2 separate regions of the Homo sapiens genome follow, and region 1 is linked to region 2. The links come from fine-mapping of genetic effects on gene expression. A gene starts in region 2. The other region holds a variant in brackets. All regions are shown on one strand. Distances are between the middles of the regions.

The links. PIP is the estimated chance that this variant, and not a neighbour inherited with it, causes the effect.
Region 1: its variant is fine-mapped to the expression of C7orf25 in testis (GTEx, PIP above 0.99).

Annotation. Positions count from the first base shown.
Region 1 is chr7:42,884,199-42,899,612 of GRCh38, forward strand. No RefSeq gene overlaps it. Among named protein-coding and RNA genes, the nearest start is that of C7orf25, 20 kb to the right of the region's middle. RefSeq lists enhancers at 1-376, 4,178-4,721, 4,317-4,366 and a silencer at 4,187-4,236. The variant C/G (reference allele first, on the strand shown) is at 7,506.
Region 2 is chr7:42,903,626-42,919,039 of GRCh38, forward strand. C7orf25 (chromosome 7 open reading frame 25) reads right to left here and starts at 8,445. Exons shown (of 2, transcript NM_001099858.2): 1 at 8,290-8,445; 2 at 5,648-7,296. The coding sequence starts at 7,275. The coding sequence ends at 6,010. PSMA2 (proteasome 20S subunit alpha 2) reads right to left here. Exons shown (of 8, transcript NM_002787.5): 7 at 14,153-14,210; 8 at 13,236-14,065. The coding sequence ends at 13,949. It also overlaps the pseudogene LOC105375252. RefSeq lists enhancers at 7,274-7,971, 7,972-8,668, 10,188-10,247 and a silencer at 8,017-8,276.

The sequences.
Region 1 (15,414 bases), 19 kb before region 2:
GGCAGGCCACTGCTGCCATCACCAGCTACTCAGGAGGCTCAGGTGGAAGGACTGCTTAAGCCAGGAAGACTATGAGGCTGCATTGAGTCATGATTGCACCACTGCACTCCAGCCTAGGGGATGAAGTGAGACCCTGTCTTAAAAAAATTAAAATTTAAATTAAAAAAAGTAAAAGAATTGGACATCATTAACAGAACACTTGCTCATGAAAAGATACAAGACAGTGAAAAAGAAAACTACAGAATGGAGAGAAGATACTTGCAATATATGTATATATATATAAAATATATACTACATATACAATATATACTATATATATATATCTCTTACAAACGACTTATATCTAGCATATATACAGAATTTCTACAAATTAATAAGGAGACACAGACAACCCAGTTAAATGATAAGTAAAACATTTGAACTTCACTAAAAAGGATATTAAAATCCAAAATAAACAGGAAAGATACTCAATATCATTAGTCAGCAGAGAATTACAAATTAAAAATTACAATGAGATAACACTTCAAATTCAAAATAGTGTCAATATGTACAATGCTTTAGAAAAATGTTTCAGAGTATTTTATAAAACTAAACATGCATCTACCCCATGATCAACAATTCCACCTCTAGGAATGAGTGCATATGTTCCACAAAAGACATGTAAAATAACAGAGATGTAAAATGATACTCATAAAAACTTTATTCATAATAGCCAAAGATTGACTACAACTCAAATTTCTATCAATACTTGAATTAGAGTTTGTAGTCATACAATAGAGTACTACAGAAAAATGAAAGATTATGAACTACTACTGCATGCAATGATATTAATGAATCTTCCAGATAAAATATTGAGGAAAATAATCAGAAACAAAAGAATACATAATGTATTCTCCATTTATGGGAAGCTCAAAATAGATAAGACTTATCTAGGGTACTAGAGGTCAGAATACTGGTTATATCTGGGAGGGGGTCTTATTAGGAATAATTAAATAAGCAATTGAAGATATTAAATAATACCACAAATACAAAAATCACAACTCAGAAAACAGATGATCAAACAGTGAAATAAGAACTGACAAGCCGAGCATGGTGGTTCATGCCTGTAATCCCAGCACTTTGGGAAGCCAAGGTGGGAGGATCACTTGAGGTCAGGAGTTTGAGACTAGCCTGGCCAACATAGATAAACCCCGTCTCTACCAAAAATACAAAAATTAGCCAGGTGTGGTGACGCACACCTCTAATCTCAGCTACTCGTGAGGCTGAGGCAGGAGAATCATTTGAACACGGGAGGTTGAGGTTGCAGTGAGCTGAAATGGAGCCATTGCACTCGTCTCAAAAAAACAAAAAAGGCGGGCACAGTGGCTCACGCCTGTAATCCTAGCACTTTGAGAGGCTGAGGCGGGTGGATCACCTGAGGTCAGGAGTCGAGACCAGCCTGGCCAACATGGTGAAACCCCATCTCTATTAAAAATACAAAAAATTAGCCAGGTGTGGTGGCAGGTGCCTGTAATCCCAGCTACTTGGGAGGCTGAGGCAGGAGAATCACTTGAACCCAGGAGGTGGAGGTTGCAGTGAGCCAAGATCGTGCCATTGCACTCTAGCCCAGGTGACAGTGCGAGACTCTGTCTTAAAAAAATAATAAAAATAAAAATAAAAACTGACATAATTAAGAACTTGAGAAAAAGACAAATCTTAGAAACAAAAACTGCATTACTAGGTAGCCAAGGGAGAACAGGAAGACAAAAAATACAGTAAGAGACATAACAGATAGAAATAATAAAAACCAAGAAAATGGAAGCAGAAAGAACAGGATACAAGCACAATCGAACACAAGTATCATTAGAGAACCTGAAGAAGAAAAACCAAATAATAGACTAGGACTAATTGTAAAACTATAATCAAGAAAACTTTCCTGAGGAAAAAAAAAAGTTCTGAATCTACATATGGTAAAGAGACAGCACATGTATGAAAAATAGACCGCAAAAGATATCTTAACAAATTATTGTAATTTATAGAACACTAAAGCCCAGACTTCACCACTACACAATATATCCATGTAACACAACTGCACATGTACTCTCTAAATCTATAAAAATAAAAATAAATGATCAGTAATGATGGCCCAATGGATACCTTCCAGAAGAAATGGAATCAGTCTTCCCCCTTGTGGATAACTAGCAAAAGTACCTTATTTTCCCCACTAAAAGTTACATGTTAGAGTTTTGAGGGAACCACAGGCTATGTGTTTTTTCCTTCTCATCTAAAGGTAATAGGAAGTCATTTTATATAAAATTTGTGAGCCAGACACGGTGGCTCATGCCTGTAATCCCAGCACTTTGGGAGTCCAAGGCAGGCAGATCACTTGAGCCCAGGAATTAGAGACCAGCCTGGGCAACATGGTGAAACCCCTTCTCTACTACAAATACAAAAAATTAGCTGGGTGTGGTGGCACATGCCTGTAGTCCTAGCTACTCAGGAGGCTGAGGTGGGGGTTTCACTTGAGTCTGGGAGTTATAGGCTGCAGTGAGCCCTCCTGGAACCAGCACCAATGAACTACAGCCTGGGCCACGGAGTGAGACCCTGTCTCAAAAAAATATATATATAATAATAAGAAATTAAATTAAATTTGTGATAAAGTACACATATCTCTGTAATAGCTAGCTGGCTTTATGACTGGTATTTTAAAATAGCACAATTTTTTAAAAAGTAAAATGAGTCAAAGAGAACAAAATGGAGGAACATTTACAAGAAAGCAAGGAAAGTGTGAAGTGAGGCTTCTATAACCAAGCAAGATTCCTTCACATATCCAAGCTATGGAGAAACAGTTTTGAACATGCTGGAACTCAGGGGATGCTGACCCATGAGCTTTTTTCAAGAAACCTGACACCTGGGAAAACTGGTGAAACAAGATTAATAGTGAGTGTTTAATATATTTAACTGAAGATCTAAGACTAAACCAAAGGTAAGATAAGAATCAAAGGATGATATAGAAACATGTTCTCTGACAAAGTCAGAAAAAAGCACAACCTAAAAAAAGAAAGAGAGGGAAAAGCATAATTAGCTCAATGATTTACTTACAAAAGTTGGGAAACAAATGACATCATTTCAAGCTACCAAAAAAAAAAAGCAGAAGCTTAAATATATTTAGGTGCACAGAGTGCAAGTAAAGAAAGAGAATATGCATTATTCTAATCATTAAAATTGAATGGCAGAGAAAGGAAGGAAAGAGGAGTTTGCAAAACAAATTATATTCTTCTTGCTTACAGTAGAGACCCAGTCAATATTATCTAAAGGAAAGAAGGAAGAATGGGTATTATAAAAACGTCAGTACTAATACAAAAGTTCAAACATTTCCAATTATCAAAAGCAAAAAACAGAACAGAAAAACTAAGAAAACAGAACACATGGCAAAAGTTTTTTATAACTCTTTTTGAAAAAAATGAAGCATTTTTTAATGCCAGAACTGGGTATAAACATGTGGTGAGAGCTTATAATTTTATGTTGCCTTGGCATCCATCTTAAAATATGTTTTAACTTTCTCATACCAGAAGCAGGGCTCAGTCAGCCTTGACACCGTTTCTAATACTATTCCCCACTGGAATGGCTCCAGTTGGTGGCCAGAGATACTGCTTCATTTCAAGGAACCATTCAGACATTTGCCTGCAAACTTAACGTGACCGCCTCTCAGTCAGGGGGACCTCCTGGAACCAGTGCCTGCTTGCTTTAAATTCAACAATTAAACCTGTTTGGATAACACTCTGAACCCAATAAAGGTATTGGTCTACGGGTCCCTTCTCTCTCTCTCTCTCTCTCTCTCTCTCTCTCTCTCTGCCTGTACTCCTTGGTGTGTGGTGTGTGTGTGTGTGTGTGTGTGTGTGTGTGTGTGTGTGTGCGCGCGCGCGCGCCCGCGCTCCCTCCAGGATCTGTAAGTACCAAAAACGCTTAAACTTTCACACTGCGGTTGTGTCACTGAAGCAGTGCCTGAAATCTAATCCCTGAGTGTGACGCCGCCCCAAAGGGCCCCAAGCAGGTAGATCCCATGCTGATGCTCTTTTATCCTGGCCTCTCAGCTGTTGAGGAGAGTAATTGCCGGGCTAAACTGATAAAGTTTCATTCCAAACAATTAGCCTAGTCTGCAGGATTGCAGTCGCGGCTTGGACACCATCCCGGTGTCTGTCCCCCGCAGAGGGCTTGCTACCTTGCTGTATCAGCTGGCCCAGCAGGTCTGGGGCCGCGCGCTGCTTACAGGCGCTGGATCTCGCTGCTCGTCGCTGCGCGCTACTAGGTCCTGCTGTCGTCCGAGTCGCCTCCGGGACTCTCCGGAATTGTAGCGGCTGTAGCCGGCTCCTTGCCTGCGGCGCGGAGGGCAGGTCCCAGTGGTAGGAGGATGTGTTCCCTTTGCAGAATCAGACCCCCTCCTGGGACTGTGGGGACCCTCTGTCGCCGGCCTCCATTGGAGGATGCGTTGTCCCTGGAGCTGGGTGCGCTGTTGCGTGACCTGGGGCCTGGGTGGTGGGCGGGCCTGTCCATGGCAAAGGGCACGGCTGCGCGCTACTTCCCGAGAACCCGCCAGCAGGCTCTTGGGAAGCAGCGATTTCTCCTTAGTCACAGTCAGAGAGGGTGATGCGACACACTGGGCTTCACTGTGCTCGTGAAGCGGAGCCAGGGTGAAAGGATCATATGGCCTAACCCTAACCCTAATGGGAGTAACTTCACCTGCGTCCCACAGGCCCCGCAAGAGTGACGCTGCCAGGCAGGCGCCGCCCTGTTCGGTTCCTGCTGCTGTCGCTCCTCGCTCCCCACCACCTCCAGAGCTCCGGTGGGTCACCATGGAAAGGGAAGCCGCTGCCTGCAAGGCCAGCAGACACAGAGGTCACCCTCCAATTTTTTCGGGTAACATTCTGTAAGGACAGAACACCAGGAGGCTACTCCTACCACCAGGAGCATGTCAGGTAAACATCCAGAGAGATGAAGGAAGAAAAAATTTTATTTTAGCCACCAAGAAATACAAGCCGTTCTAAAGATTATACTTAAAAGAAAAAAAAAACAAAAAAAGGAAGGAAAAAGGGGACCGATGATCTTGCAATCACGGAAGTTGTAGAGAGCTGGCTGCCTAGAGACACTGTGCCCTTCCCTCCTCCCTCTTTTCCTCTTATCAACCAGAGGCAGAGACTAAGAATGCCTTCAAGCAACTAAAGCCTAAAATAAAAAAGAAAGAAAAGAGGAAGAGGGAGAGGGAGGGAGAGAGAGAGAGAGAGAGAGAGAGAGAGAGAGAGAGAGAGAGACTGTTGCTTTATGCTATTACAAGTCCAAGAAAAAAAAAAAAAGAGATGAACTTTAAACTTTAAATACTTAGCAGCTGCCAGGTCTAGCAAACATGCTAGCCCTAGATCACTTACTGATTTATAAACAAACCCCTAGATACAGAGGGGGAAAAAGGTAATTAAATAAAAGTTATATATAATATTTTAACATAAATATATGTTGATAAATGGTGTATATGATATATTTGCATCTTTTGATATAGTTAGAAGTTCATAATGCATATAGCAATTTATATATCAAAGAATTTACATAACAAAAAGATTAAAAAGGACACGTACTGGCTTTGTGCTTCTACAAGGTCAGTTCTAATTTAACTTTAACAATTTGTTAAAATGCACTAACAAAAATGCATGGACTTAATATTGGGGCTCAAATTATATTTATACCTGGGGAATTCCACTAAACTTAAACACTCTGCCCATGTAATCTTGAGCAGGTAACTGAATATAATATTTTGTAAATGAATATGCCTTGCATATTCATTTGTAGCATGGCCTAAATTTCCCATAGTTATATATCCATTGCTGTAAGATATTCTATATTAGGCAGAGATGCTCTGACACAATAAATAACAAATTAAAATTAAAGTAAGTCTTTGGCACTTACAAATTGACTTAATAAAATGGAACCCCTTGTACCCCCAGTTAATATAGTTAATATGGCCCAAAGTAAGTTGAAATGGATTAAAACCAATTCTAAAAAACCTATTAATAAAGGCGTGATTATTCCCACTTCCCCATTTAACAGCCCTTTCATTAGGGCCCCTATATCCAATACCTAATATTATTAAAATTGCTGATTCCGTTCAATCAACAACTGGTAAATATTTTGCTCTTGTGGATTTGGCTAACGTGCTGTTTCAATAGCGTCTTCACTGCAGTTCGCCTCCTCCTCTAAAAGAACACAGTACACCTTTTCAGACCTCTGCAGCTGTGTCATCACATGCAATCTTTAATTAATCTTAACGACATCCACCTTCTCCAGGAGCACTGGTATGAGAGTACATCCAGGACATTCTCAGCCAAGGAGACTCACTTAATACATACATTGATGACATTCGAGACCAATATTTCTTAGTACTTTTGGGTTTTGGTGGCAACATATTCCTCATTTATAAATTTTACTTCTAAATTAAAGTCTACAGACACTCCTGTAAGTGACTTCTTAAAAAAAAAAAAAGCCTTTACTGTAGAGTCTTCTCAACCTTTTCAAATGCCTCCTGCAATCTCTGGATATTTAGGATAGCTATCAGTTGCCCCAGGATTTCTGATACGAGATATTGCCCCTGTTGGCCTCATGCTATACAGCATTAATACAATAGATGACTGGCCCCCACTTACTGGGCTGTCCCAGAAATAGAGGCTCTCCCAGACCCTGAGCCTGTGACCCTCTATACCCAGCTGCCCATTATGCTTTGGGCCATGGAAACAGACCCCACAAGCTCAACACAGCTACTGAGGCTCCCTAAGACAGATGGGAACAAACCTGGGTCCTCTGGTATATTCTACCCACAGGAGGGTATAGCTTCCCCTGTTCTAAGCCCCTTGCCAGACGCCAGGGTGCTGGAGGATGACATCCCTCCCCTAAACCCCTTGACTACTAGGAAGCCCTGTGGATTAACTGAGTGACCAGTAAAGGGAGTTCATAGACTATGTGAATGGCACTGCCAGCCCCTGTGCATGGTGGAGCCTAGTGGAATGTGCTGCTTTCCATTCCTTAGCCAGGATGTCCCTAATAAAGGATGGGGCCCAAATACAACGCACGTGGCCAAAACTCCAGGTGGTCATCTTAGCACTGGATACCCTGGTCAACAACTGGTCCTGTCTTCATGTTTATTATAAACTATTAGGCCATTACTGAAAAATTGGCCCCTCAAGGATAAAAAAAAAAAAAAGAAAAAGAAAATCTCTGGGAATCTCTTACTTCGCACTCACCCAAAACATAAATTAGAATCATACTTCTCCACTTAGAGTTGAGGCCACAATGCAAGGCCGTGCTAGCCATGCCTTATTCCCTTCAGAGTCATGGCTGTTACTAACAGTAACCAAGGCACACAATTCACTTCTTAGAACACATCATGCTGGGCTCCTGAGGAACATTCAATAGAACTTTCATGTCCATGACAGGTCCCAAATGACTGGTCTCAATAAGAGACATCATGATGGTTTAAACAACTC[C/G]TTTTCAAACTTCAATACCACAAATAAACTAAAGTTCTCTAGTTTGCCCCTGGCCTTAACCTACTTTTTTTTAACAATTTTTTTATCTTGTCCCCATCCCTTAAGGTCTGTAGGTCAGATCAAGGACATAGACTCTCCTGGGACTCATTAACCATATATTGTCCCACAGGCCTGGCAGCTGCTCATCTTATATGAAACCCATTTGAACCTAAATGTCCACCCAAAACAAAACCCTGTCAGGTGCAGCTGCACACCATTTCTTTGATTGTTGGTCTTATTACTATCAGTTTGGGTGCTTTCATTGGTTTACAACTGGACACCCAAACCCTCCAGTAGTAGATCATTGTTTCAACCAGTTATGACAAATGCTGAGGCCCGCACCAACTCAGGTGCCTACCCATTGAGACATCTCAGTCTCACCTCCTGGAGGACACTGCCCCAACTCAAGACCTCAGCGTTGGAGATGACTTTGCTCCCTGTGCCAGACATGGCTTCACTCTGGACACTAAAATCTCCCCCCAGTGATACTCACAGACTGCCTCTCCAAAAGCAGAAAACGCACATTTATTATTTTTCTTCCTGAACTCACTGTCTACCTGATCCTGCTATACTTCTTACTCTCTGCTACCTCCACACTCCCATACCTAAAGGGAACTCATAATACAGGTTACTAAAATGAATGAAGATTATTGCCTTTCCCAGGAGACACCAGCCCCATGTCAGTCAATCGTGTGGCTCCCTGGGGAGATGACCACCTACTCCCTGAAATCTTTCCTACTAAGCCCCTCCAGTTTTCACCACAATCTCTCACCCTGCATCTCCGAACATCACCACTATGATCCCTCTCTCCCCTTACTCTTGAGAAATCTCCAGCACTCAACCACAACTGCCTTAATTTTGAATAAGATGCTGAGGCACCAAGAGGTGAATTGCAGTGGATTTCATTCAAAATGAAACCTGAAGCCATATATGGACTTAACTGACCAATTAAATATCATGATTTTCAAATTTGATCACATAGCAAAACTCAAACCTGTGCGATAAAACAAGAGACATATTTAAAATATAATAACTCCAAGGACTAGATTGCAGCTCTGGACAGAGCAGCATGCGGAGGCTTGCGCTGTGAATTTTAGCTCCAGATCAACTGCAAGTAAAAACCAGCAATCCCAAGAGGACCCACAGACCCTCTGAAGGAAGTAGGCTGCTCCTGCAGCCGGGGGAGACACCCCAAATACTGTGAGTGCCCCAACTGTGGAAGTGGGAAAGGGTGACCCTCCTCTCCCAAATACATATCCTCACTGGAGAAGCTGAAGATCTGTTTGCAGGAGAAGTTTCTGACTTTACCTGGAGCTGAGTCAGGTTAGAGAGCTGAGCAAAGTGCAGGGGTAGAGGAAGCAGCAGAAAGGCCCTGGGAGCTCTCTGGGTCCCCAGGCAGCCCATTCCTGCCTGGCACCACAGCGATCCATCGGGAGGTTGGCCAGAGGAACAGGGGGGTAAACCTCCACAGGGAGAAGGAATTCTCTACCCGAACTTTGTAACAGTTTGAATGGGGGAGAAGCCTCCTGGCCAGAACTCAGTGGGAGGGCACAAATTGGGCATGTAGAATTCACAGGCCAGGAAGAACTAAAGTCCTTTTCTCTCACAGCTGGGAGGCAGATAGCCTCGGGCAAATTTTCAAGCCAGTCTTGCCTTCACCTGGAAATGGACTCAGGATGTTAGGGGGGTGCATGGACTCAGGATGTTGGGGGGTGCACGGTGGGAGTGAGACTGGCCCTTCAGTTTCCATGGGAGCCGGCAAAGGCCTGCCATTGCTGGCTTTCCCCCACTTCCCTGACAACCTGCATGACTCAGCAGAGGCAGCCATAATCCTCCTAGGTACACAGCTCCACAGCAGCTGCAGCAAGACAGGCCCAAGGAGAGTCTGAGCTCAGACACCCCTAGCCCCACCCCCACCTGATGGTTCTTCCCTACCCACCCTGGTAGCAGAAGACAAAGGGCATATAATCTTGGGAGATCTAGGGCCACACCCACCGCTGGTCCCTCTCCACAATACTACATACAGCTAACGCTTTCTGGAAAGCACCACCTCCTGGCAGAAGGCCAACCAGCACAAAAATAGAGCACTAAACCACCAAAGCTAAGGACCCTCAAGGAGTCAATTGCACTCTTTGCCAACTCCACCAGAACAGGTGCTGGTATCCACGGGTGAGAGACTGATAGATGGTTCTCATCACAGGACTCTGTGCAGACAACCCCCAGTGCCAGTCTGGAGCCAGGCAGACTCACTGGGTGGCTAGACCCAGAAGAGAGACAACAATCACTGCAGTTTCGCTCACAGTAAGCCACATCCATAAGAAAAGGAGGTGAGTACTACATCAAGGGAACACCCCGTGAAACAAAATAATTTGAATAACAGCCTTTAGCCCTAGACCTTCCCTCTGACAGAGGAAACCCAAGTGAGAAGGAACCAGAAAACCACCCAGGTAATATGACAAAACAAGGCTCTTCAATACCCCCAAAAAAATCACCGTAGTTCACCAGCAATGGATCCAGACCAAGAAGAAATCCCTGATTTACCTGAGAAAGAATTCAGGAGGTTAGTTATTAAGCTATTCAGGGAGGGACCAGAGAAAGGTGAAACCCAATGCAAGGAATCCAAAAAATGATACAAAAAGTAGAGGAAGAAATATTCATGGGAATAGGTAGCTTAAAGAAAAAACAATCAAAGACTCAGGAAACTCTGGCCACACTTTTAGAAATGTGAAATGCTCTGGAAAGTCTCAGCAATATAATTGAACAAGTAGAATAAAGAAATACAATATCACAATCCAACAAAGACAAAGAAAAAAGAATAAGAAAATATGAACAAAGCCTCCAAGAAGTCTGGGACTATGTTAAACAACCAAACTTAAGAATAATCGGTGTACCTGAGAAAGAAGAGAATTCTAAAAGCATGGAAAACATATTTGGGGGAAGAATTGAGGAAAACTTCCCCTGCATTGTGAGAGATCTAGACAGCCAAATAAGAGCAAGAACACCTGGGAAATTCATCACAAAAAGATCTTCACCGAGGAACATTGTCATCAGGTTATTCAAAGTTAAGACGAAGGAAAGAATCTTAAGAGCTGTGAGACAGAAGCACCAGGTAACCTATAAAGGAAAACCTACCAGATTAACAGCAGATTTCTCAGAAGAAACCCTACAATCTAGAAGGGATTGGGGGCCTTATCTTCAGCCTCCTCAAACAAAACAATTATCAACCAAGAATTTTGTATCCAGCAAAACTAAAGCATCATATATGAAGGAAAGATACAGTCATTGTCAAACAAACAAATGCTGAGAGAATTTGCCATTACCATGCCACCACTACAAGAACTGCTAAAAGGAGCTCTAAATCTTGAAACAAATCCTGGCAGCACATCCAAACAGAACCTCTTTAAAGCATAAATTACACAGGACCTATAAAACAAAAATACAAGTTAAAAAGTACAAACAACATACAAAAACCAAAGTACACAGGCAAAAAGGGCATGATGAAAGCAACAATACCTCACATTTCAGTACTAACATTGAATGTAAATGGCCTAAATGCTCTACTTAAAAGATACAAAACAGCAGAATGGATAAGAACTCACCAACCATCTGCTGCCTTCAGGAGACTCATCTAACACATAAGGACTCACATAAAGTAAAGGCATGGGGAAAGGCATTTCATGCAAATGGACACCAAAAGTGAACAGGGGTAGCTATTCTTATATCACATAAAACAAACTTTAAAGCAACAGCAGTTAAAAGAGACAAAGAGGGACAACATATAATGGTAAAAGACCTTCTCCATCAGGAAAATATCACAATCCTAAACATATATGCACCTAACGCTGGAGCTCCCAAATTTATAAAACAATTACTAATGGTCTTAAGAAATGAGATAGAAACAAAATAATAGTGGGAGACTTCAATGTTCCACTGACAGCACTGGACAGGTCATGAAGACAGAAAGTCAAAAAACAAACAATGGATTTAAACTATACCTTGGAACAAATGGACTTAACATGTATATACAGAACATTTCATCCAACTACCACAGAATACACATTCTATTCAACAGCACATGCAACTTTCTCCAAGATAGACCATATGATAGGCCATGAAATGAGCCTCAATAAATTAAGAAAATTGAAATTATATCAAGCACTCTCTCAAACCACAGTGGAATAAAACTGGAAATCAACCCCAAAAGGAACCTCCAAACCCATGCAAATACATGGAAATCAAATAACCTGCTCCTGAATAAGCACTGGGTCAAAAACAAAATCAAGATAGAAATGTAAAAATTCTTTGAACTGCACGACAATAATGACACAACCTACCAAAGCCTCTGGGATACAGCAAAGGTGGTGCTCAGAGGCAAGTTAATAGCCCTAAACACCTACACCAAAAAGACTGAAAGAGTACAAACTGACATCCTAAGGTAATACCTCAAGGAACTAGAGAAACAACAACAAACCAAACCCAAACCCGGCAGAAGAAAGGAAAGAACCAAGATCAGACCTCAACTAACTGAAATTCAAACAAACAAACAAACAAATACAAAAGATAAATGAAGCAAAAAGCTGGTTCTTTGAAAAGATAAATAAAACTGACAAACCATTAGCAAGATTAACTAAGAAAAGAAGAGAGAAAATCCAAATAACCTCACTAAGAAATGAAACAGAAGATATTACAACTGAAATACAAAAGATCATTCAAGGCTACTATGAACACCTTTATGCACATAAACTAGAAAATCTAGAAGAGATGGGTAAATTCCCGGAAAAATACCGTAGCTTAAATCAGGAAGAATTAGATACCCTGAACAGACCAATAAGCAGTGAGATTAAAGTGGTAATTTAAAAATTATCAACAAAAAAAAGTCCAGGACCAGACAGATTCACAGCAGAATTCTACCAGATATTCAAAGAAGAATTGGTACCAATCCTTTTGACACTATTCCACAAGATAGAGAAAGAAGAAACATACCCTAATTCATTCTGTGAAGCCAGCATCAGCCTAATACCAAAAACAGGAAAGGACATAACCAAAAAAGAAAACTACAGACCAATATCCTTGATGAACATAGATGCTTAGATGCTAAAATCCTTAACAAAATACTATCTAACTGAATCCACCAATATGTCAAAAAGATAATCTACCATGATCAAGTGGGTTTCATACCAGGGATAAAGGGATGGTTTAACATACACAAGTCAATAAATGTGATACACCACATACAAAGGATTAAAAACAAAAATCACATGATCATCTTAGTAGATGCAGAAAAAGCATTTGCCAAAATCCGACATTCATTTATGATTAAAACTATCAGCAAAATCGGCATACAAGGGACATACTTTAATGTAATAAAAGCCGTCTATGACTAACCCACAACCAACATAATACTGAATGGGGAAATGTTGAAAGCATTCCCTTTGAGAAATAGAACAAGACAAGGATGCCCACTTCACCACTCCTCTTCAACACAGTACTGGAAGTCCTACCCAGAGCAATCAGACAAGATAAAGAAATAAAGGGAATCCAAGCTGATAAAGAGGAAGTCAAATGTCACTGTTTGCTGACGATATGATCACTTCCCTTGAAAACCCTAAGGACTCCTCCAGAAAGCTCCTAGAACTGATAAAAGAATTCAGCAAAGTTTCTGGATACAAGATTAATGTACACAAATCAGTAGCTCTTCCAAACACCAACAGCGACCAAGCAGAGAATCAAATCAAGAACTCAACCGCTTTTACAATAGCTGTAAAAAAAAATAAAATACTTAGGAATATACCTAACCAAGAAGTCAAAAGACCTCTACAAGGAAAACTACAAAACACTGCTGAAAGAAATCATAGATGACACAAACAAATACAAACACATCCCATTGCTCATAGATGGGTAGAATCAATATTGTGAAAATGACCATACTGCCAAAAGCAATCTACAAATTCAATCCAATCTCCATCAGAATACCACTATCCTTTCAAACAGAATTAGAAAAAACAATTCTAAAATTCATATAGAACCGAAAAACAGCCTGCATAGCCAAAGCAAGATTAAGCAAAAAGAACAAATCTGGAGACATCACACTATGGGATTTCAAACTATACTATAAGGCCATAGTCACCAAAACACCAGGGTACTGGTATAAAAATAGGCACATAGGCCAATGGAACAGAATAGAGAACCCAGAAATAAACCCAAATACTTACAGCCAACTGATCTCTGACAAAGCAAAACAGAAATATGAAGTGGGGAAAGGACATCCTTTTCAACAAATGGTGCCGGCATAATCAGGTACCCACATGTATGAGAACGAAACTGGATCCTCATCTCTCACCTTATACAAAAATCAACTCAAGATGGATTAAGGACTTAAACCTAAGACCTGAAACTATAAAATTTCTAGAAAATAACATTGGAAAACCCTTTCTAGACATTGGCTTAGGCAAGGATTTCATGACCAAGAAGCCAAAAGCAAATGCAATAAAAACAAGGATAAATAGCTAGAACCTAATTAAACTAAAGAGCTTTTGCACAGCAAAGGGAACAGTCAGCAGAGTAAACAGACAAGCCACAGAGTGGGAGAAAATCTTCAGAATCTATACATCTGATAAAGAACTAATATCAGGAATCTACAACAAACTCAAACAAATCAGTAAGAAAAAAAACAAAAAATCCCATCAAAAAGTGGGCTAAGAACATGAATAGGACAATTTCCAAAAGAAGATATACAAATGGCCAACAAACACATGAAAAAATGCTCAACATTGCTAATGATCAGGGAAATGCAAATCAAAACCACAATGTATACCACTTTATTCCTGCAAGAATGGGCATAATAAAAAAATTAAAAAACAGTAGATATTGGCATGGATGTGGTGATCAGGGAACACTTCTACACTGCTAGTAGGAATGTAAACTAGTACAGATACTATGGAAAACAGTGTGGAGATTCTTTAAAGAACTAAAAGTAGAACTACCATTTGATCCAGCAATCCCACTACTAGGTATCTACCCAGAGGAAAATAAGTCATTATTCAAAAAAGATACTTGCACATGCACGTGCATGTTTATAGCAGCACAATTCCCAATTGCAAAATCATGGAACCAACCCAAATGCCCATCAATCAACAAGTGGATAAAGAAACTGTGGTATATATATATATATACACACATATATATATATATACACATATATATATATATATACACAATGCAATACTATGCAGCCATAAAAAAGGAATAAATTAACATTTGTAGCAACTTGGATGAGATTAGAGACTATTCTTTTTTTTTTTTTTTTTTTTTGACACAGAGTTTCACTCTTGTTGCCCAGGCTAGAGAGCCATGGTGCAATCTCAGCTCACCACAACCTCTGCCTCCTGGGTTCTAGCCATTCTCCTGCCTCAGCCTCCTAAGTAGCTGGGATTACAGGCATGCACCACCATGTCCAGCTTATTTTGTATTTTTGGTAGAGATGGGGTTTCTCCATGTTGGTCAGCCTGGTCTTGAACTCCCGACCTCAGGTGATCCGCCCACCTCAGCCTCCCAAAGTGCTGGGATTACAAGTGTGGCCACTGCGCCCAGCCTAGAGACTATTATTCTAAGTAATGTAACTCAGGAATGGAAAACCAAACATCGTATATTCTCACTGATATGTGGGAGCTGAGCTATGAGGACGCAAAGGCATTAAGAATGATACAATGGACTTTGGGGACTTGGGAAGAGTGGGAGACGGTGAGGGATAAAAGACTACAAATATGGTGCAGTGTATACATGGGTGATGGGTGCACCAAAATCTCACAAATCACCACTAAAGAACTTACTCATGTAACCAAATACCACCTCTACCCCAATAACTTATGAA
Region 2 (15,414 bases):
TTATTTGTTGAATCCTGGGAAATTCTATTCATTTCAGAATTCTTTTAGTTTATCTCACCTACTATTTTAAACTTTATTTCTGAGATTGTAATTTTAGTGAGTTTTTCTATTTCCTGAAGTTTTATTTGCTTGTACTCTTTCCTTTTTTTTCTTTTCTTCTTCTTCTTTTTTTTTTGAGACAGTCTTGCTCTGTTGCCCAGGCTGGAGTGCCATGGCATGATCTCAGCTGTCACCTCCACCTCCCACGTTCAAGCAATTCTCCTGCCTTAGTGTCCCTAGTAGCTGGGATGACAGATGCACGCCACCATGCCCAGCTAATTTTTGTATTTTTAGTAGACGGGGTTTCACCATGTTAGCCAGGCTGGTCTTGAACTCGGGACCTCAGGTGATCTGCCCACCTTGGCCTCCCAAAGTGCTGGGATTACAGGCGTGAGCCACCACACCTGGCCCCTTATAGTTTCTATGCCTTTTTTTTTATCCCCTTTAATCATTTGTTATTTAGGTGAAGAGGGAAATGCCTTTTTTCCCCATTCTTACTTGCATGATGGCAGGGAAGTGGAGGCGTTATATCCCCCAGCATATGCCTGGCCCTTCTCTCCTGGGAATATAGAGAAATGTATTTGATTGCAAGTTTCAGACGAATGCCTGGAGGCTTGGCTTGGCTCATCTCTGCGCTTTTTCCTTTTGTGAATAAGTTTGCCACAGGGTGAGGTGTTCTCTGCAGCCCTTTTGGGACAAGCTCTCCCTGTCACATGCCCCAGAATTACCTGCAATCAAGTGGTTAATGTCTGCCTAATTCTGGGCTTCAGTATTAGGAAACATACTTGCTGCGCATATACACCACATCCTCCACCTGAGCTGTGTGTGCAATGTTTGGTTGCAGCCTCCCTCTGCTACTTTGAATTACTACTTCTTTTTGTTTTTTGTTTTTTTTTCAGAGGATAGGGAACACTTAGAAGATCCCAAACTTACTTTCTTTTATATTTTGCTATTATATATTTTTACATATATATTCTATAATATCATATATTTTATTTTAATGTATTTTGTTATAATCTTAAGTTCTTGAAGAACTAATGCTCCTCTTTATGTGTTGCTGATTTGCTGGTGGTGGAAGGTTTCCTTCTACGTTTTGACTATTTCTCACTGTAAGCGCATCCAATCAAAGCTCAGTTTTTCTATAGACATCTACGTAGCCGGGAAACTAAAATGTCCCTAAGTCCAGAATGAGGTTGCGTATGTTGTTCTCAGGTGTCTGAGAGATAGCACTTGCCAGCGGCCAATTTTTATACTAATTTCACATCTCTGGGTTTCCCCCATGATGCTGTTAAATGACTTGAACTCTATGTGGGACACAGTCTGGGCTTTGATTTCTTTCAGAGTTCTTCCCCCCGCCCCACCACCCCCACCCCACACCCCACACCCGCCCCCAGAACCACTGGAGTCAAACCCTTGCTGTGTCCCTGGGCAAAGTTTACAAGATCCTCTTTCATGGGCATTACAGCCTTAAGGTTCTGGTTCACTCAGTGGGGGTCTTGGGGTTACCTCTTTACCTCAAGCAGGCCTCATGCCTCTGATTCTATCCCAGCATGAAGGTTAATCCCCACATCCCTACTATAACGGTTGGGAACTCATCCTTGCCTTTCTTCCTCTTGGGAACAAGATTCCCGGGCACAGTGACTCACACCTGTAATCCCAGCACTTTGGGAGGCCGAGGTGGGTGGATCACCTGAAGTCAGGAGTTCAAGAGCAGCCTGGCCAACATGGCGAACTCCCGTCTCTACTAAAAATACAAAATTAGCTGGCCGTGGTGGTGCATGCCTGTAATCACAGCTACTCAGGAGGCTGAGGCAGGAGAATCAATTGAACCCATGAGGTGGAAGATGCAGTGAGCCAAGATTGTGCCACTGCACTCCAGCCAGGGCAACAAGAGTGAAACTCCATCTCAAAAAACAAAACAACAACAACAAAAAGATTCCCACAGCGTGAAATGTTCTCTGCCTGAATCCATTTTGTCTGCAGTGCCATTTTGTCTGGGATGTTTATGTATCTTTTTAAACTGAAATTTTGTTCCAGCTTCTTTTTTATGCAATCTTGTCAGGTTTCAGTATCAGAGTTATACTCATGTTCTGTAAAATGAGTCTGAAAACATTTCCAATACAAGGATGACCTGAGACAGTCAGCCTGTTATTACATGAGTCAAGAAACACCCCATGGGCTTCAGTCCCATACCCAGGCCCTGTTCTCAAACAGGAGAGCAGGCCAAAGTTCTCCTCTTGGGGCAGAGGACAGGGAGTAAGAGGAACAACACATCTTACCATGTTACATTTCAACCCCACTTACGGGGTTATGCTCCATATTACCTTTTAGAGCACGGGGATTATTCGGTATTTAAAAGTAGGAAAAAACTTGTCTAATAAAGTTAACTGCATCTGCACATATTTTGGAGAAATTACTTAACTTCTTTAACAATTTTTTAAATGGTTATTGCTTATTTAGGCTATTTTTCAATTCTAATTTACATTTCCTGAAACAGTCATCTGTTCCAATGAGATTTCCCAGTATATCACAATTATCTATATATCTCCCTCCAAAGCTGTTTTATATCCTTCCTGTGCTTGCAGCTAGCACTCTTATTTTATGCTTTCTGCTTTTTATGCCTCATTCACAATTCTTTTATCTTTTTCTTTTTGAGACAGGGTCTCACTCTGTTGCCCAGGCTGGAGTACAGTGGTACAACCAAAACTCACTGCAGCCTTGACCTCCCAGGCTCAGGTGAGCCTCCTGCCTCAGCCTCCCTGGTACCTGGGACTGCAGGAGTGCACTACCATGCCTGGCTAATTTTTGTATTTTTTGTAGAGCGGGGTTTTGCCATGTTGCCCAGGCTGGTCTTGAAGTCCTGGGCTCAAGGGATCCACCCTGCCTCAGCCTCCCAAAGTGCTGGGATTACAGGTGTAAGCCACAGCGCCCAGCCTGACCTGTCTTTTTCTATATGGACTACATTTATTCTCCATCCTCACCTTTTGTTTGGAATTTATTCAGCTATTCAGCTTGGTTTAATTTATACTATCAGTTATATTTCCTGTTTGACACTCAAAACTAAATAGCTCTATTTTTCAATAGCAAAATTTCAAAGTGTCTGTTGACTCTAAGTAAGATGAGGATTTTTAGCATGCTTTTACTTTCCTCAACCACTTCCAATTCCCAGGCATAACGACAGTTTATTACGTATCTTCACACTTTAGAACTATTTGGACATTTGTTTGCTTTATAGCTATAGCTCTGTGATTCCTTTGACTTACCAGTTAACTGATATTTAATTGAACATTCCTTTTATAACTTCCCTCATTGTTTTTATTGTCTCTTTTTTTTTTTGAGATGTAGCCTCGCTCTTGTTACCCAGGCTGAAGTGCAATGACGTGATCTCGGCTCACTGCAACCTCCACCTCCCAGGTTCAAGTGATTCTCCTGCCTCGGCCTCCTGAGTAGCTGGGGTTACAGATACCCACCAACATGCCTGGCTAATTTTTGTATTTTTAGTACAGACAGGGTTTCACCATGCCAGCCAGGCTGGTATTGAACTCCTGACCTCAGGTGATCTGCCCCTCAGCCTCCCAAAGTTTTGGGATTACAGGTGTGAACCACCACATCCGGCCTTTATTGTCTAATATTTTACCTTTATGAAAGGAATGTTTTGGCCAGCTGGAATAGACCTTGACAGTGTAGATCATGTGTGTGGTCTCTAGGGAAGGTGCTATTTCTTACATTCCAGGATCCAGTGCCCTACTACTTGAGCATATGTACTGCTTGCATTATTTATTACATTGTTAGGAGTTGCAATCACTGGAATGCTTGAAAAAACATCATGGTCTTTGGCAGGGCACAGCTGTGGTCACTTCACAAAGCAGTTTCCTAAAGAGTGCTGTGGCCTGTCCACTTTCTAGTTGGCAAAGATCCCAAGTTCTTAGGTATTGATTGATTCATAGGGAGCAGGGATAGAAATCTACCTTCTTTCTGCTCCTTTAAAACAAGTCTTTTATATGCCATGCCCTTTGTACTGTGTCTGACACATGGCTGTCACTCAATGCTTATTAAACGAATGAGTACATTAATATGTCAATTCTGCCTCAAACAAATCCAACATGTATCCATGACTCTACAGTCCATCATTCCTGCTCTAGCTAAGGTCATTATAGTCCAAACTTTCTTTCAATTTTTATCCACACTACAGATTTTTGTGGTTTCCTTAAGAGACCTGATCATAAGCCACACTTTCTTAAAAATCACCAATGGCTCTCTAATGCCAAACTCTTTAGAGAACTTTGACTTTTTTTTCTAGCTCCATCTTGTTTTATAAACTGTCCACTTGAGCCTGGTCCCTGAACAGGTCCTCATAGTCACAGTTCTGGTACTTTTCCAATCCCATTCCTCCATGTACTTTTGAGTACCCTTTCTCACACATCTTGTGAAATTTCACACCCCAAACCCTCAAACAACACTTCCTCTCTGACTTCCTGGCCCCATAACAAGTACTCCTTTACTCTGTCCCCATAGTATTTTCAACATATCCTAGAGAATTTAGTACATTTAATTGCACTTCAGTTGTTTACTTCCACTTTAGACTTAAGAATTCCTTAGAGCAAACATTCATCTTTTCACACCAAACTATTATAATGCTTGGTACTTAATAGTATCAAGTACTACATGACCTTAATAGATGCTCAAAAAGCTTAAATTCCATTTCTAACACTAGACATATACCACTCTACACTAAACTGGAAGCAAATCACAGCCTTTCTACTAGAAAATGTATTCTGACTTAGTAAAGCAATCTCTCCCCAGAGAACCACCCCCATACACTTAATTTTGCATTCATTTCAGGGTGTTCATGAATGCCAATAACCAAATTCCACCCCAACAAACACTGTGGCTGTAAATTGAGATTCTCTTCTCAACAAATACGACATTTGGCATGGTAGAAAGAGATCAGACTGTGGCTAGAAACATCAAGTTTTAATACCAGCTCCTACACTTAGCATGAGTTAATATTTAAGCTCCAGGACTCAAATTCCAAATTTTTAAATGTGGTGAATACATACCGACTTTGCTAGTTTTGCTTTATTGAAAACTGATAAAGTATCTAGCGCAATGTAGCCATAGAAGTGTATTTTTAACTACAACTTGTGTCATGGAATTGGCATGGAATATTCTGTCACCATCTCATGAAAGTAAGGTAATGCAGTTGTCACTTGCCACTTGCAAATGAAACATGAAAATAGTATTTATTGTTCAAATACTTATAATATGGGGGCTTTCTGTATTGAATTTTTAAAATCTTTTACATAATCCTTTTTCAATTCATTCAAATTAGTATTTTACCTTAAGTGTCCTGGTTTTATCTTATAGTAGTAAGATTGTTGGCTTTCTTTTCACAAAGGTCTACCAATGGGTTCATGGCACTCAAATAACCATAATTCACTTTCTCATTTCTTCTGTATTATGTACTTTTTGTAAAAACACCTATCAGACTGCACCTGACATACAGCAAATAAGTTTTTCATTAATGGTTAACCTTAGAATCTAAAATTGATTACCAACGACTACCTCCCAGCCTAAACCATATAAAGCAATACAATGAAAAACAGGCTTGAATTTTCTCCAGATATTTAATGCAAGATGCAATGTAGCCATATTCCATGAAATGTGGTTAGCAGTAGGGGAGTTGTAGCCCTATCGAATCAAAGTATTACAATACAGCTGAAAGCTTTATATAGACGTATTTCGGTTCTTAATTGCACTAATGCAGACAGTTTGATAGATAAGCTTCTCTCTTGTGCTTTTTCTACTTTGGGAGGTTATATACTTTAGATGAGAGACAAAGAAACTCTACTGGTTTAAGAGTTCTCAGTTTTACTTTTACTATAGACCTTTTTTCCCACCAGTTTAGATGGGAAGACCCAGCCTTTGGTATAAATAACTTACTTCCACAAAAATATTTAAAGGGTATCTTTAGTGTTCACTGTCAGTTGTGTAGTCTTTTGGTAAGGGGGTGGCTAGAGCCTCTTTACTCTCAGTAAGTGCTCTGGGCTGATGGATAAACACACTAAATTTAACACCCTGGTTGTTTGCAGCTCTGACAAAACCACTATTAGCAGTCATTGTGATGGCTTTTAGGGTGTCTCCCGTCCCAAAAATTGTTAATGAGCGGCTATTAATTTTTGAACTGGCCACTAGTCTCAAGGCACGCTCAGAAGGCTGGTCTGGTACCACATTAATTCGCTTAATTAACACAGTGGCCCTCTCTCTCTCCCCAGGTCCTCCTAAGGTATCTAAAATAGACTGAAAGTCCTTGACAGCAGATTCACAAGCAAACAACTCCTTGTCCTTCATAAAGGCCTCCAGCTGAGGTAGAACCTGCTCTTTCCTCTCTTGCTCTGCTTGTTCTGTGAGCACTTTCTCTTTGAAAATAAAGTGGCAGCCTCCATAGCTGAGGGCAGATACATATGTGATTAAAGTAGTAATGTCCAGATTTACTCTTTTGCACACATCGACCTTAATTTCTGTTGGAAACGCAACACTTGCTAGTATATTTTCTCGGTCAACTCTGGTCACCTGCAAAAGTTCAGGGCCCTCATCATCTGATTCACTCTCACTTGGTTGAAGCTCTTCAGGGTGATCTAACAGAGCGTTGACTGCTACTATGTCTCCTCTCACAGATATGCCCATTTCTTTCAGCTTCTCTGCCATGGGGCTGGAGACACTGTTGTAAAATGCAAAGATGATGTGAGGGTTGCTATACTGCACTGGCTGCTGGTGACTGGCCTGGAGGAAGTCTTCAGCCTGCTCAATGATGCTTTTGTCACCATATTGGCCCCTGCCCAGCCAGATGTTATGAAGAGCTTCAGCCTTCCGGCCAATGGCTTTCACCCAAGTATGACCACCATTTGCAACTACATCTACCACAAGGGTTTGCTTTTCTCCTAAGGTATCTGTATAACCAAAGACATGAAGAACACTAACAACTTCTTCCAGGTTTTCTGCTGATTCCACAATGGCTCTCAGGTGTGTTAGGTTAGTGCTCTGTAAATGAGACTCTTTAATAGCTACTTTCCCAGCTTCTACTTTCTGCAAGAATTTTAATTCTGCCTTCAATTTGCTGCACAGCTTTGCACCACCTTCTATGCCACCTTTTCTTGATCTAGAAAGTGATTCTGCTCTCTTGATCAGTTCCTTGGCTATGGCGATTCGTTCACAGAGCATGGAATGTGCAGACATGCTGTCAGCATTATTCCTTTCCTAGGGAAAGAAACAAGGCAAACTTCAGTAGTCTCCTAAAATTATGACAATCAATTCTTCACTGGTGATTAAAAACTTCAATCTAGCAACACAGCTTATGGAGGGTGAGTCTATGAACCCGGGCTTGTGTATGTCTCATTCTGGAGTGACTGCTTCCTCTGATAGCTAAGGAAAGGATGGCAGCTACACTTTTGAACTCTTCTTTAGGTACGTCTGACACACTTTAGACCTTCATTTCTTCAGCTTGAAAGCCATGGGGACACAGCATGGTCCTAGGTTAGGATACAATGCAAGAGTTGGGCAATCTGCTATATAAATAATTCCCTTATGTCTATCAGCGGCCTGTTTAACTGCTGAGAAATTTTAATAAAGGCGACAAAAATGCCGAAAACAAAAATACACACAGACTGGCTAGTTAGCAAACTGTCCAAAGCAAGTGTCTGTCCTAAACTGAGCACTTCAGCCTCCCTAACCTTTTCCTCCTTCCCGAGTTGGTCTCCTTCAACCGGCTGCCTCATGATTTCCCCCGAGGCTTGGGGTACTTACGCCAAAAAAAATCAACACTGCCTCATTTCTGCATTTGACGTCAACCCAGACTATTTTAAAAGACCGAAGAAGACCACCAACTTGCGTCCCACTCCCACTCCGACTCTGAAGGAAAATCCGAAGATGAAACTAAACTCCAAGGCTGCAACCCGCGGCGGCCGTGCAAGCGGCCCCAGCGCAGGTCGCCGGGTGGGCGGGCCAGAGGCCGGCGGGGCCTTCTCGGTGGGCTGCGGGGCCCTCGGCCCTGCCCGGCCACCTGCACAGCCGGGCCCTGCCAGGAGGGGCCGGGGCCGAAAAGCCCCCACCGCCAGCGCCGCGGCTCAGGGACCAGGCGCTGATAGCGCGCGGCCGACCCCCTTCCCGCCGGGCCGGCCCTGCCCAGCCCCCTCTGGCCTCAGAAGAGGCGCCCCGCTCCCAGCCTCCCCGCCTCGCTCCCCGGCTCCTCACCGGCAGCGCCAGAACCGCGAGCGCGAGCACGCAGGCGCGTGCACGCAGAGGCCGGGACCCGCCGGGAAATCTCAACCGGGCAGCCCCCACCCCGCTCGAACGCCGAGGCGGCTCCACCCGCGCGAGCCCCGCCGCCTCGGGCACCTCCTGCATCACGTGGTTCCGGGCCGGGTGACGCCAAACCTGCGATTCCCAAGCGGCAGCGCGGCCTCCCGAGCCGGGTTGACGCTGGCGTGGCGGCCATGTTTATTGAGGGCACCTGGCTTCTCCCGCTTGCGCCGCCGGGTGAGCCTGAAGGCGCGCACCCACCTGGCTCCAGGAAGAGGGACCGAGCTCGCGTGCTGGGCCTCACTCCCACTGGGGGCGTCGGCCACTCGATCGCAACCGGGTCGTAGGCATTTTGGGGGCTCATTTTAACAGAAGAAACGCTGGAGAAGCTTGTCAGAGGTGACAGCTGAGAAGTACTGCCTCTGGGACTTCTGCCTCCAAGCCAAAGCACTTTCCACTGCATTGTCCTGGGCCCTCCAAAGAAAGTGTGCTGTCCTTCTGAAGAGAAGAAATGATTGCATGGCTTCCGAGGGGCTGCCATATTCATATTACTGTAGTAGAGTGTCCAGAGTCACCCAGAAAGATTAGGGCTGTAAGAAAGTAAAGCTAATTTAAAATATTAAAGAGGACTTCCAGTTATAATTAATCCTGTGTATCCTGCTCCTTCTCCAAACTTAACAGTAAAGCAATGCTCCTTCTCCAAATAACAGTAAAGCAATGACAAAGGGAACAAACAAAGGCAAAAAGAACAAGAGAAGAGATGACTGCAGACCGGTTATACCAACACATTTTTGGAGGACAAGAGCAATAACTTATTCAGTCCTTACAGCGTGACAGACATTGTTCTAAGTGTTTTACACATTGTTCACTCCTTTAAACAACCTAAAAGGTAGAGATATTAAGTATGCTTTACAGATAAGTGAGCCATAGGGAGGTTACCTGAACCCAAGCACCCTCTTTGCAGATGGTGTCAGGAGAACTGAGCAAACTGCTTGTAGAAGGGGATATTTAGCCACTGATTCACAAAGCAGAACCCCAGAAAGCTTCAGGTGCCTTGAAGGTAGAAGGGAGGGCAGTAAATTGTTCAGGCAGAAGACTAGTTTAAGATGCTAAAGACAGGGCATCAGAGGGATTCCAGACACAAAGCCTAACAAAGGATGAGAGGTGCCATGATGTTTTCCTACTGAATAGTGCAATGCTAGCAGCCCCCTTCTCTGCCCCTCCCATAATGCAGGCACCCCTCTACCGCTCCCTACCACTATCTCCCCATAACCCTATTTTTCTCTGAAGAAATGAGTAGACAAAAGACCCTAGAGAAATGGCTCGGCAATACCAACATTCAGCATCCCCTAGTGTGAGCCTCACGAACACAGCATTTCCCAACGTTTTTGTTATTTGAAGGAAATGGAAAACAGAACAAAATGGTCTCAAAAAGTATTCTATAACTAGCATCTTCAAATAAAAGATATTTCAGCTATGAAACAAGAGGATTTCTTTTTTTAAGGAGACAGCAGAGCACAGGAAATGGTTCTTCTGTAGTAAAAATCATATCCCAAATTTCAAAACATCAATGAGTTGGAAAAATTTAGAAAGTAGAAATAGATGAAAAATGGAGCAAAAACAAAAGGATCCAGTATCCAATTAACAGGAGTTTAGAAACAAAAACAAAATGAAGAGAAAATTTTTCAAAAACTTAATAGAAAATTTAGCAAACAGAAACGTTTTTCACAGTGCAAGGGCCCACTGAGTGCTCACCACAATGACTATTAAGAAACCCACACAAAGGAACATGGTTGTGAAGTTTCAGAACACAGCAGATAAGAGAAAAACCAAGAGCTGCAGAGGGGAAAACTTACAAAGGACTTGGCATCACATACGCAATAGTATTAGGCTTCCTATCAGCAACACTGGAATTTAGAAGGGAGTAATGCTTTCAAAATGTGGAGATAATTTATTTCTTAGAGTTTTTAAACCCAGCCAATTCAGAGAGAAAGCAAGGAGAATAAAGATAGTTTCAAACAAGCACCTAGCCTGGATTGGAACAGGAAGACAGAGGGTTCTAAGAGAAACTTCTCTGAGGTGTGGGGAAGAGAACTGATACAGAGTGCCTGATATCTGACTGATGAGGAAAATATTAAGCAGAGGGTGTTAAATTTCTGTTGGGGGAATCTGGCAAGGATTGGTGACAGCTACGCAGAAAACAAAGTAACCAAGTGGGCTGGGCGCCGCCATGGCTTATTTGTAATCCCAACACTTTGTGAGTCCAGGGCGGGAGAATCACTTGAGCACAGGAGTTCAAATCCAGCCTGGACAATGTAGTGAGATCCCTGTCTCCACAAAAAGTAAAAAAACTAGCTGGCCATGGTGGCTGACATCTGTATTCACACCTACTGCAATGGCTGGGGTGGGAGGATCGTTTGACCCCACGTCAAGGCTACAGTGAACTGATTTGTGCCACCTCACTCCAGCCTGGGTGACAGAGTGAGACTGTCTCAAAAAAAAAAAAAAAAGAAAAAAAAGCGGTTATCACTGCCAGGAAAGTTGTTCCGGAAATGTAAATTGTAGTACACTTAGTCATAAGAAAAATCTTCAACATGATTTAATTGAGGTAGGGAGAAGGAAGTCAGTGTGATATGAGGATTCTAAATTCTCATCTTGCACAATGGGAAGTCTGGCAGCTCAACTCCGGGAATCCAAGAAAAAGGCATATAATCCTACTATTTTGAAATACGGAGGCAAGTACCTCATGAAACACCTAAAAAAGTCAAAAGTGATGGCTTTCAGGGAGTAGCACTCACATTTTACTTAACTTTTTAAATATGCTCATGCTTAGGAAGTTATCAGATAATTGGCAGCCAGATATTGCTAGTTTCATAAGTTTCTTGAGAACAGGGTGGAGGGAGGAGCTCTAAATTGAAGGAACTGTGTGAAGCAATGTGACTTTCATACAGAACCACCAGGACTGGTTTTCAGGAAATCAGGATTCTAATCCAAGGGAACTCTCAACTCCTATATGTTCTTGGGCAATTCGCTGAACATCAACTTGCTCTTCTTTGCAATGGGGGGCTCAGAGAGCTTGCCTACATGGGTGAGTAGACTCCTGAAAAAAAGGTGAGGTAAGTACTAAGAGTTGGCAGTTTCATTCTATGAAGAAAACTGAGCAATAGATGAAAACCCTTCAATGTTCACTTATCACCTACTTGATGCCTGAGAGACTGTGCAAGGTAATTATCTCAAGGTTGGGTTTTTTTTTTTTTCCTTCAGGGATGCTTGAGTGTTATCAGCACTTGATAATTATAAGGCTCTGTATTAGTATTCTTTATTGCCTGTGTATGTGAATTTTAAGCATCTCCATGTTTCACTGCTATTAATTGCTTTGCAAATTTAAATTCATGGTTCAGTAGAACTGGGAGGAAGTAGAACAAATGGAGTTAAAATGTTTTAAGGGTTAGAAGATACAAAATGAACCAAAAGGCAGAGGCTCTGAACATTAGAAACATTATGATACTTAAGCTAAAATCCACAGGCTGGAAATGGTTCAAGAGTTTTGGAATGTTTAGGAATGCAGTGGGTTGCTACATCAAAGAACTCTAAGAACTGGGACAAAAAGGAACAACTTAATTTTAAGGCCCGTGGAAAGAATAAACAGAACAAAGGGAGAAGTGTTGTAGGCAGCTTGAACTGGAACTGGGCTTTGCATTTAATGGGGGCAGGAGGTGGAAAACAGAACCTGGATCAAATCTGGTTCAGCTGATTTTTCCTCCCTTTATTCTTTAGGCCTAATTTTGTTAGCACACAATAAAAACCTACATGAGTTTTCCTTACCTCTGAAATATTAACATGCCTTTAATTTTCCCTTCTTTGATTTGTAGAATTTTGACATTGCTTTGCTCTTTTGATACTGGACATTATAGAAGGACTAAACAAAATCAACGGCAGTTAACAGAGTAACTATTAACCACACCAGGCTTTAACTTGTGTTATCAAATTTAGTCCTTAGGAAACCCTGAGATATGGCCGGGCAGAGCGGCTCATGCCTATAATCTCAGCACTTTGGGAGGCCAAGGCGGGTGAACCGCTTGAGCTGAGGAGTTGGAGACCAGTCTGGGCAACATGGTGAAACCCCGTCTCTACTAAAAATACAAAAATAAACCAAACATGGTGGTACGCGCCTGTAGTCCCAGCCACTCGGGAGGCTGAGGTAAAAGGATTGATCACCTGAGCCTGGGAGGATGAGGTTGCAGTGAGCCAAGATCACGCCACTGCACTCCCCCTGGGTGACAGAGAGATTGTCTCAAAAAACAAACCAACCAACCAACCCTGAGATAATTACCTCACATAGTCACTCAGCCAGTAAGTGAGATAGCTGAGACTTGACTTCAAAGACCTTTTTGCTACTATGTCCGCTTTCTAGTGTGCCAAAGTCAAAATATATCAAGAGCCCATAAGAGAGATTATTAGACAAGGCCAAGATAAACATCTTGAAACAGGAAGCCAAAGTTACCATCTTTCATCTCCTTAATGCTTTTGCCACCTAAAACAAGATATGGGTGTTATAGTGATGGTAGGGAACAGAACTGGGGACCCTGAGAAAAATCTCCAAAATAAGGTTCTTTTGCCCTTAACTAAATCTTAGAATCTTCTGAGCTCCATTTAAATCATGGAATTGCCCACTATACTTTCACGTTGGTAAGAATGATTATGCTTATAAACTCTCCTTATGTTCTGTAAACCAAATTAATGATTTTATCCTAAGTTGCCTTAAAAAAAATTTAAAAAAAAAAACCTAAGCACTGCCTTCATATGAGTGCAGATACTTAATTATAACTTTCATTATAGTGAAGCTATTTATTATACTGAGATTACATTAATGAATTAACAAGAGCCTTAAGCCATAGTTTTGACACTTAAGTATTAGCATTTTATTTCAAGCACTTATGCTCATCCTTGAGTTTAAAAAGTCTAACAAAATCTAAGAACCCGGGTTCCTTTAAACATGTTTACCTACTTGTGGAGACACCAACAGGAACCAGCAAACCATTGTTTATTTATTTACATAATGTATCTCCCATGGAGACCTATTTGGCTTACCACTCTTCATAGGCCTAGTACAATCTCATAGAGCACCCTAGGATTTCACTGATCAATACCTAATGGCACCTAAAAGTACCTATGCTTCTTTTCTTGTTCCATGAATCCGTGAAAGTCTGCAGATCCTCCCAGCTCTAGAAGCAGTCATGTTTTTTACCAAAATCAGCATTTTGCTTTATGGAAACACAGGCAACATCTGATAGCGAAGAGGGCATTAAGATTTGACTTAACCAAAATTGCCTGACAACGAAAAAGTCATTTCATCATTCTGCTTGGCAATGTAGTCTTCAGAAATCAACTGTGATAAAAAGCAGGAAATAACTGTTAAAATTTTAGCAACTCCTAAAAGGCTGGAAGGTGGGTTTAACAGTTTATTAGGATTTATAAGTGTCATTTTAAAAACAGTCGATTTAAACCATGTAGAAATAAGTATGCAAAAAGTCTGCAAAACAAAACATACTTTAAACATGTTTAAGTAGATAGATTATCTGAAATTCTGGATTTTTCAGTCACTTCATTGTTATGCTATGGCAGCCAAGTAATCCTTAACTTCAGTTGGAGTAAGCCTCCTAAATCCAGCTTCATTGCAGATTCCAACTTCTATGTTATCCTCTGTCATTTGCCCTTCAAAGCTTTCCTATTGAGGAGGGAGGAAAAAAGGTCAATTTTCTAAGCAGTTAATCATGAAATCATTATAAATCCAGTTGTTGAATACTGAGCTAACCTTTAGGGTTAAGATGGCTGTATGAATGGCATCTTCAAGTTCCAGATCTTCATTATATCTGAAGAATTTAAAAAAAATTACTTATATCATTGTTTATATTCTTTATAACTATTTAAATACAATGACAGCAACAACGTAAGTTTTTAAAACTCTAAACATCTTAAAAATACTAAATTACACATTCTTTTAATCACCTCCTTGTAGCTGTCTCCAGATTAAAAAAACTGACAATATCTGGTGCTCAATTCCCAACATCATGAACGGTATGACCCTAAAATGAGTTTAGTTTAGGAAACTTTTTTTTTTTTTTTTGAGACACAGTTATCTTGGCTTACTGCAAGCTCCACCTCCCGGGCTCATGCCATTCTCCTGCCTCAGCCTCCCAAGTAGCTGGGACTACAGGCGCCCACTACGCCCAGCTAATTTCTTTGTATTTTTAGTAGAGATGGGTTTCACTGTGTCAGCCAGGATGGTCTCGATCTCCTGACCTCGTGATCCGCCTGCCTTGACCTACCAAAGTGCTGGGATTACAGGCACGAGCCAACACACCCAGCCAGGAAACTTCTTAAGTATAAATATTTTAACAATCAGGATGTGGTGGCATTATTATAATTTTTAAAACACAGAAAAATCAGAACTTTGCTAAAATCTTTTTCTTATAAGTTAAAACATAACATGTCACTTCCTGCCGATACCAGTGTGGACGGTGCGAAGAGTGGCTGGGTCGTTTCTTCGGTTCTCCCCATCCCCTACTTTCCTCCCTCCATTGTCAACTGTTGCTCACCCTTCCCAGACTCCCCAGCCCCTCCCTAGCTCCTTCCTAATCTCGGTGCCACCTTTTCCTTTTTCTCTGCTCAGCCCGTGTTAGGGTGAAGCCTGGAGGAACCCCGGGCGCTGTACCAGAGGAGAAAAGACAAGGATGACCCTCAGCCCACCAGCCCAATCACTGGGTTCACCACCTCCATAGCAATGAGACTGATGCTGCTCACCTGTTCTGGCCACATATGGCCCGTGGCTGACTTGGCCTTCAGTGGCATCATGCCTTAGGGGCTTTTTTTTCCCTCAAGACAGAATCTTGCTCTGTCGCCCAGGCTGGAGTGCAGTGGTGCAATCTTGGCTCACTGCAAACTCCGCCTCCCAGGTTCAAGTGATTCTCCTGCCTCAGCCTCCCGAGTAGCTGGGATTACAGGCGCGCGCTATCACTCCTGGCTAATTTTTGTATTTTTAGTAGAGACGGGGTTTCACCATGTTGGCCCAGCTGG